Linked DNA regions of Homo sapiens. The protein of the gene in region 2 interacts with the protein of the main gene of each other region in a biochemical or structural test. Each region holds a gene or a part of one and is shown on either strand. Other genes may lie near its edges.

Region 1 (3,810 bases), on a different chromosome or scaffold from region 2:
ATAGGCTTTATTTTTACTTTTTTTCTTGAGACAGAGTCTCGCTCTGTCACCCAGGCTACAGTGCAATGGCACCATCTTGGCTCACTGCAACCTCCACCTCCCAGGTTCAAGCGATTCTCCTACCTCAGCCTCCCGAGCAGTTGGGATTACAGGCACCCACCACCACACCTGGCTTTTTTTTTTTTCCGCATTTTTAGTAGAGACAGGGTTTCACCATGTTGACCAGACTGGTTTTGAACTTCTGACCTCAAGTGATCCACCCGCCTCAGCCTCCCAAAGTAAAGTGCTAGGATTACAGGCATGAGCCACTGCACCTGGCCTTTAAATAGGCTTTAAATGGTCCACATCTATTTGATGCTATCTTCTGCATAACTGGTATAATTTGCTATAAAAAAAGGAATTCAGAGAGAGAAGAAAAGCTCTCGGTCTTCAAAACAGGAGCAGTTGTGGCCCCAAAGGGAGGGCTCTGGCAGAGGCCCAGCTCTGCAAAGATCTAAAGGCCCGTGATGGCCAGGGAGCCCAGGGATACTGTATGGGTGCTACTGGGGTGGTGCCTGGGGAAAGGGCTGAGGCAGCTCTGACAGACCAGGATCATGGGAAGAATGACCCGGCATTCAGGGCCAGCAACAGGGGGAATGAGCTCACTGTCACAGGAGGCAAGCAAGCCTGTGAGAGAGTTTTAAAGGGATTCTCTCATTCACAATGGGATTTCTGGGGCCAGGCTTAAGGATGAGTCACATCTACCCTGCTCTCGAGGCATCCCTGGATTGGAGTGGTGGCAGACAGGGACAGTGGCAAGTATTCTGAAAGAGGTATACACATTTCGGGGCTGAGAGGCTAAAATGAGAATGGCGCAGGGGACGGGGAAGGCTTCTCTGCACACAGCTGCTGGGATCTGAGGATCAAAAGATGAGGCTGAAATGGACCAGGCAGAAACAAGGGGAGGCGCGCTCCAGGCAGGAGGACCAGCAGGTGCAATGGCCTGGAGGTAGGACAGCATGAGGCAAGGCAGGCGGACGGTGATGAAAGAGGCACAGAGTCTGAGGATGCGGGCGGCGGCGGGGGCGGGTGGAGAAGAGCACAGCAGGTGGGGCCAGACCACGCAGCCTCTCCAGAGTTTTCTGAGGTGCTGGGGGGGGCCATGGGAGGGGCAGGCCGTGCTCCGTCCAGTGGCTGTTGCCGTGAGGGGTGTTCGGGTGCGAAGGCGGCCAACATCTTGCTCCAGGCAGAGTAAGGCAGAGTCAAGGGAAGTGCTGACGGGGCCAGGGAGCTGCCTTACCTTGGAGCTTCTGGTTAGGGGAGATAACGCCTTCCCTAAACATGTAAGCCCCAGATCAGGGTGGGTCTGTTACTACCAGCAAAGGCATCCTGTCAAACCTGGGCCCTGCCCTGGAGGGACTAATGTGCATTTATGAAGGTAACACAGGCATCACCCAGCATCTCACCGCAAAGGCCTTCAGAGCCTTCTAGACCAAGGACATTTCCTCTACAGAGACCGAGACCTGATGTGCTTCCTGTACAAGCCCCAGCAGCCCTGAATCCTCAGAAAGCCTTCTGAAGGCTGGGTGCAATGCCTCCCGCCTCTAATCCCAGCACTTTGGGAGGCTGAGACAGGCAGATCACTTGAGCCCAGGAATCTGAGACCAGCCTGGGTAACACAGGCTCATACCTGTAATCCCAGCACTTTGGGAGGCCGAGGCAGGTGGATCACTTGAGGTCAGGAGTTTGGGACCAGCCTGGCCAACATGGCAAAATCCCATATCTACTAAAAATACAAAAATTAGCCGGGCATGGTGGTGCACACCTGTAGTCCCAGCTACTAGGGAGGCTGAGGCAGGAGAATCGCTTGAACCTGGGAGGTAGAGGTTGCAGTGAGCTGAGATCCTGACACTGCACTCAGCCTGGGCCATACAGCAAGACTCCATCTCAAAAAACACTGGTTACACACTGAAATAATAGTTTGGATATACTAGGGTAAAGAAAATATATTAAAATGAATTTCACTGATTATTTTGCTTTTTTAAAAAATATATGGAGACAGGGTCTTGCTGTATTGTCCAGGCTGGAGTGTGGTGGTGCGATCTTGACTCATTGCAACCTCGACCTCCTGGGCTCAAGCGATCGTCCCATCTCAGCCTCCGAAGAAGCTAGGACTACAGGTGCATGCCACCATGCGTGGCTAATTTTAAAAGTTTTTTTGTGGTGGGGAGAGACAGGATCTTGTTGCCTAGGCTGTTCTCAAACTCCTGGGCTCAACCAAACTGCCCGCCTCGGCCCCACAAAGTGCTGGGATTACAGGCGTGAGCTGCCATGCTCAGCCTGTTTTGCTTTTTTTTTTTTTTTGAGACAAAGTCTCTCTCTGTCACCCAGGCTGGAGCGCAGTGGCACAATCTCGGCTCACTGCAACCTCCACCTCCTGGGTTCAAGCGATTCTCCTGCCTCAGCCTCCCGAGTGGCTAGGACTACAGGTGTGCCACGAGGCCCAGCTAATTTGTGTATTTTTAGTAGAGACGGAGTTTCACTATGTTGGCCAGGTTGGTCTCAAACTCCTGACCTCGTGATCCGCCTGCCTCGGCCTCCCAAAGTGCTGGGATTACAGGCGTGAGCCACCATACCTGGCCCCTGTTTTGCTTTTGCAATGTGGCAAGAAAATTTCAACATATGCCGGGCGTGGACAGAGCAAGACTCCGTCTCAAAAAAAGAAAAAAAAAAGAAAATTTCAACATATATATGGCTTGCATTTTGGTGCTGGGTTACACCACTCATATTCTCAAGGTCATCACTATTCCTGGGTGATGAAAATATATTCTTCGTAAATAACAAAATCAAACCCTCTCATTCTCCTGGTCAGCCCCCCTGCTCAGCAGGGCGAACTATTTGGGCCACCAAGACCCTGCCTGAGTTGCCTCCTTACATATTAAGGGTTTGCATGTTCATTTCCTCCTGGATCGGAACACCAGTGCCATGAGGCCAGGGATGTACGGCTGCTTCAGTCCCCACAGTGTTCCCAGGGCCCAGGGCAGCCTGGCACAGGGGAGGTGTTGAATGCGGATTTGTGGACCAAAGCCATCACACAATAACCAGCTGGAAACGGGTGGGGCTGGGGCTCAGGCCTGCATCTGTCCCGTTCTTAAGGGATACCAAATTGAAATCTGTTTGACTTCCTGTGCTCTTCACAGAGGCCAGAGGGATCATGTGAAAACTTGAGTCAGACCCCAGCACTCCTCCAAACCCCTTCCATGGCTCCCAGCAAGTTCGAAGTAAAAGTAAAGTTCTCACTGCAGCCCACAAGGGCCTGCACCATCTACCCTGTTCCCTCTCTGGCCGGTTCTCCTGTCCTCTCTCTCCAAGGCAGGAGCTGCCCTCTCCTCCTCCTAAGTCCCTGCTCCACTACAAGCACAATCCTGCCTCAGGGCCTTTGCACAGGCAGCTCCCTCTTCCAGAGTCATGCATGCACCATTCCCCCACTTAGTTAGATTCTCTGCTCCAATGCCACCTTTTCAGCGACACTCTCTGACCAGCCTATATAAGAGCATCATCCTTAACTCCATCCCCAAGCCCTTTCCTTGCCTCATTTTCCATCAACACCTACTCCCACCTGTCCGGCCCCCAAAATATTCACCTGTGTAGTGGACCATCTCCTCTCTAGAACGTGAGCACCCTAGGGCAGGAACTTCTGCTCACTGCTGTAGCCCCATCACCTAGAACAGTGCCTGGCACCCAGCTGGAACTCAAGAAAGACTGGTTCCATCATTCATTCATTCATTCAACTGGCAATCATCTCCTGAGGCCTCCCATGGGCTAGAACCT
Region 2 (3,606 bases):
GAGAATTGCTTGAACCTGGGAGGTGGAGGTTGCAGTGAGCTGAGATCATGCCACTGCACTCCAGCCCGGGCAACACAGCGAGACTCTTTGTCTCAAAAAAAAAAAAAGAGTGGGCGGTCAAGGAAGGCCTCACTAAGGAGGTGATCTGACAAAGGAGCAAGCTAGAGAAAAGCACAGTTCCCAGCCAGAGGGAACAGGAAGTGCAAAGTGGCTGCAGGGTGGTGAGGGGACACCCAGGAGCTGAGGCAGGAGGAGGAAGAGGCTGGGGAGGGCATGCTGGCTCTTTGGATTTTGTTCTAAGAACAGGGGAAACCATTAGAGGGTCTTCACCTGGAGGCTGGCATAGCTTGGTTTACCTGTAAGAAGAGACCCCCCGGCTGCCCTGGGGAGACTGGGATGTGCAGAGGGGAGGCAGGGAGACGAGCAAGGAGGCTGCTGTGCTTCCCAGGGAGGTACCAGGTAGCTCAGACCAGTGGGAAGTGGAGTTAGGCAAGAAGCAGGAGGCCTCCCAAGGGGCGGTGATCAGCCAGGCTGCTTTTCCTTCAGGTTCCTTTAGCAAATTTGTGAATGTGATATCAGCCAGGACGGCCATTGGCCACGACCGGAAAGGGCAGCTGGTGCTCTTTCATGCAGACGGCCAAACGGAGCAGCGTGGGTGAGTCCTGGGAGCTGAGGCCCCCCGGCCGGGGCTCAGTCCTGCTAGGAGGAACGTTGACCCAATGACAGCCACCCTCTGACTCTACCTGCTTTCTGGGATGTTGACACCTATCTGTCCCCCCTCCCAGGGCCCCCTCACCTTCCCACAGGATGAGGGTTCTGAGATCTTTGCCGATTCCAAGAACTCATCATCTTCAGCTTTAGGCCTCACCTTTCCTGAACCCTAGATAGGATACAAGGAAATGGTCACAAAGTGAGCAGGGAGAAGATCTTGGTTCCAATCCCAGCTTAGCCATCGATGACTTGTCTACCCACCTATGCCGTAGACAAGTCCCTCGGCCTCCCTGAGCCTCATTTCTAGCCCCTGTAAAGAGAGTGTTTTGGTTTGCTCTGGTTGCATAACCAGCACAAATTTAGCAACACTCAGCAGGGAATGTTCTTTTGTTTGTTTGTTTCTTTGAGACAGGGTCTTACTCCGTCGCCCAGGCCAGAGTGCAGTGGTGCAATCTCAGCTCACTGCAACCTCTACCTCTCAGGTTCAGGTGATCCTCCCACCTTAGCCTCCCAGGTAACTGGGATTACGGGCACCCGCCACCACACCCAGCTAATTTTTGTATTTTTAGTAGAGATGGGGTTTCATCATGTTGGCCAGGCTGGTCTCGAACTCCTGACCTCAGGTGATCCATCTACCTCGGCCTTCCAAAGTGCTGGAATTAACAGGCGTGAGTCACCGCACCTGGCTAATTTTTGTATTTTTAGTAGACACAGGGTTTCATCATGTTGGCCAGGCTGGTCAACTTGGAATGTTCTATGTTCAGGGTGTCCCATGGACAAAACCAAGATGCTGGTTAGGCAGGGCTCTTCTCTTATCTGGAAAGAATCCTCTTGTTTAGGTTGTTGGAAGAATCCCCGTCGCCTCCTCAGTTGTGACTGAGGTCTTGGTTTCCCTGCTGGCCGCCATCTGGGGCCTCAGCTCCTTCAAGCTGCCCAGGTTCCTTCCCATGTGTGTCCTCTCCCCCAGTTGTCCGGCCACCCTCTCATCCCCCTCGTATTTCAAATCTCACTTCCTATTCTGTCACCAGCCAGAGAAGGCTCTCTGTGTTGAACACTCCTGTGATTCCAGTGGCTGCACCCAGATCCTCCGGGCCGTTTCCCCTCCCTTAAGGATTCCTATGCCATGTAACAGCACAGGCATGGGTGTGATCTCACGTGTTCACAGCTTCCGGGGGCTAGGATGAGACATGCTTGGGGGCGGGGGCCACTTAGAAATGTGCCTGCACTGTGGGCGTGATGCTCTGCACTGTGGAAGGAAAAGGAGTTAAATGAGAAATGATGGTGGGCGCTGAGCCTGAGCAGCGCCGCTTTGTGCCGCAGCATCAACCTGTGGGAAATGGCGGAGTTCCTGCTGAAACAGGACGTGGTCAACGCCATCAACCTGGATGGGGGTGGCTCTGCCACCTTTGTGCTCAACGGGACCTTGGCCAGTTACCCGTCAGATCACTGGTAAGCACGTGAGAGCCGCCTTCGTGAGGGCTGAAGTCCAGGTCTGCCCCAGCCTGTCTCATTCAGCCAATATTGAGTGCCTGCTATGTGCCAGGCCCCGGGGGTTCAAGAGAGCAGAAATTGCTGCAGTCCCTCCCCCAGGATGCCAGTACTACCCAGGCCTAGGAGCAGGGTCAGTTGGTCAGCAAAGACCTCCCTGAGGATGACAGAATAAGAACTGAGATCTGAAGGAGGTGGTAGCTGGGTGGGGGTGGGAGAGCCTTCCGGGCAGAGGGCACCACATGTGAAAGGCCCAGGGCTGGGAGGGATTGTAGGGAGCGGAGGAACCTATAAAAGACTGGAGAGGGCTGGGCACAGGGGCTCACGCCTGGAATCCCAGTGCTTTGGGAGGCCGAGGTGGGAGGTTCGCTTGGGCCCAGGAGTTTAAGACCAGTGTGGGCAACATAGACCCTGTCTTTATGAAAAAATAAAAAAAAATTAGGCAGGCGTGATGGTGCACACCTTACGGTTACAGCTGCTCAGGAGGCTCGGGTGGAAGGATCGCAATACCTCATCTCAAAAATAGATAGACGCCATCTTGTAGGTAGGTAGGTAGACAGGTGAGAATGGAGAGAGGGGTGGTTGGGGGCAGCCTGGAGGGAGTTGAGGGGCCGTCTGGGGGTGTCCTCTCCTCACACATCACATCCCTCTACAGCCAGGACAACATGTGGCGCTGTCCCCGCCAAGTGTCCACCGTGGTGTGTGTGCACGAACCCCGCTGCCAGCCGCCTGACTGCCACGGCCACGGGACCTGCGTGGACGGGCACTGCCAATGCACCGGGCACTTCTGGCGGGGTCCCGGCTGTGATGAGCTGGACTGTGGCCCCTCTAACTGCAGCCAGCACGGACTGTGCACGGAGAGTGAGTGGGGGTTCTGGGGAGGGGGCTCTGCCCAGCCCTGCCTTGCCCTAGGCCCTCACCTGGCCTCCCCGGTCTTGTCTCGGCAGCCGGCTGCCGCTGTGATGCCGGATGGACCGGGTCCAACTGCAGTGAAGGTAGGAGCTGCCACGCCACTAGCGGATGGGGAGACGGTGGCCCCCGGCAGCCCCCACTGCTCCTCTGCTGCTTCTGTCTCCACCTTCTGGTCTGGGAAATGCTTGCCTCTTGTCTTCTGCCCCGGCCTCACCTGCACATCACTGTGTGACTCCCCTGTGGCTGCTGCGGCCCGTTCCACAAAGGGCTCGGCTAAAACAAGGGTCCCCGGGCTCTGGCTCCAGGGCCCACCTCAAATCCAGCACGGTCTTATCTTGAGATCCTAACTGCAGTGCCTCTGTAGAGATTCTGCTTCCAAATAAGGTCACGTTCAGGGGCTAGTCCAGGGAGGGCAGGGGGTGCTTCACCTTTAGCCCGGCTCTGTACACATGGGCAGGGGCAGGTATCCTGTCCTGTCGAGAAAGGCTCTGACAC

What was found.
Region 1: the proteins of NAGPA (region 2) and AP2A1 form a complex in vitro, tested with the Homo sapiens proteins (one study listed by BioGRID).

Annotation. Positions count from the first base shown.
Region 1 is NC_000019.10:49,773,452-49,777,261, reverse strand, and holds part of AP2A1 (AP-2 complex subunit alpha-1), read right to left. Parts: intron 1-3,810.
Region 2 is NC_000016.10:5,027,434-5,031,039, reverse strand, and holds part of NAGPA (N-acetylglucosamine-1-phosphodiester alpha-N-acetylglucosaminidase precursor), read left to right. Parts: intron 1-546; coding exon 547-655; intron 656-2,031; coding exon 2,032-2,160; intron 2,161-2,854; coding exon 2,855-3,060; intron 3,061-3,146; coding exon 3,147-3,194; intron 3,195-3,606. UniProt on the Homo sapiens protein: Catalyzes the second step in the formation of the mannose 6-phosphate targeting signal on lysosomal enzyme oligosaccharides by removing GlcNAc residues from GlcNAc-alpha-P-mannose moieties, which are formed in the first step.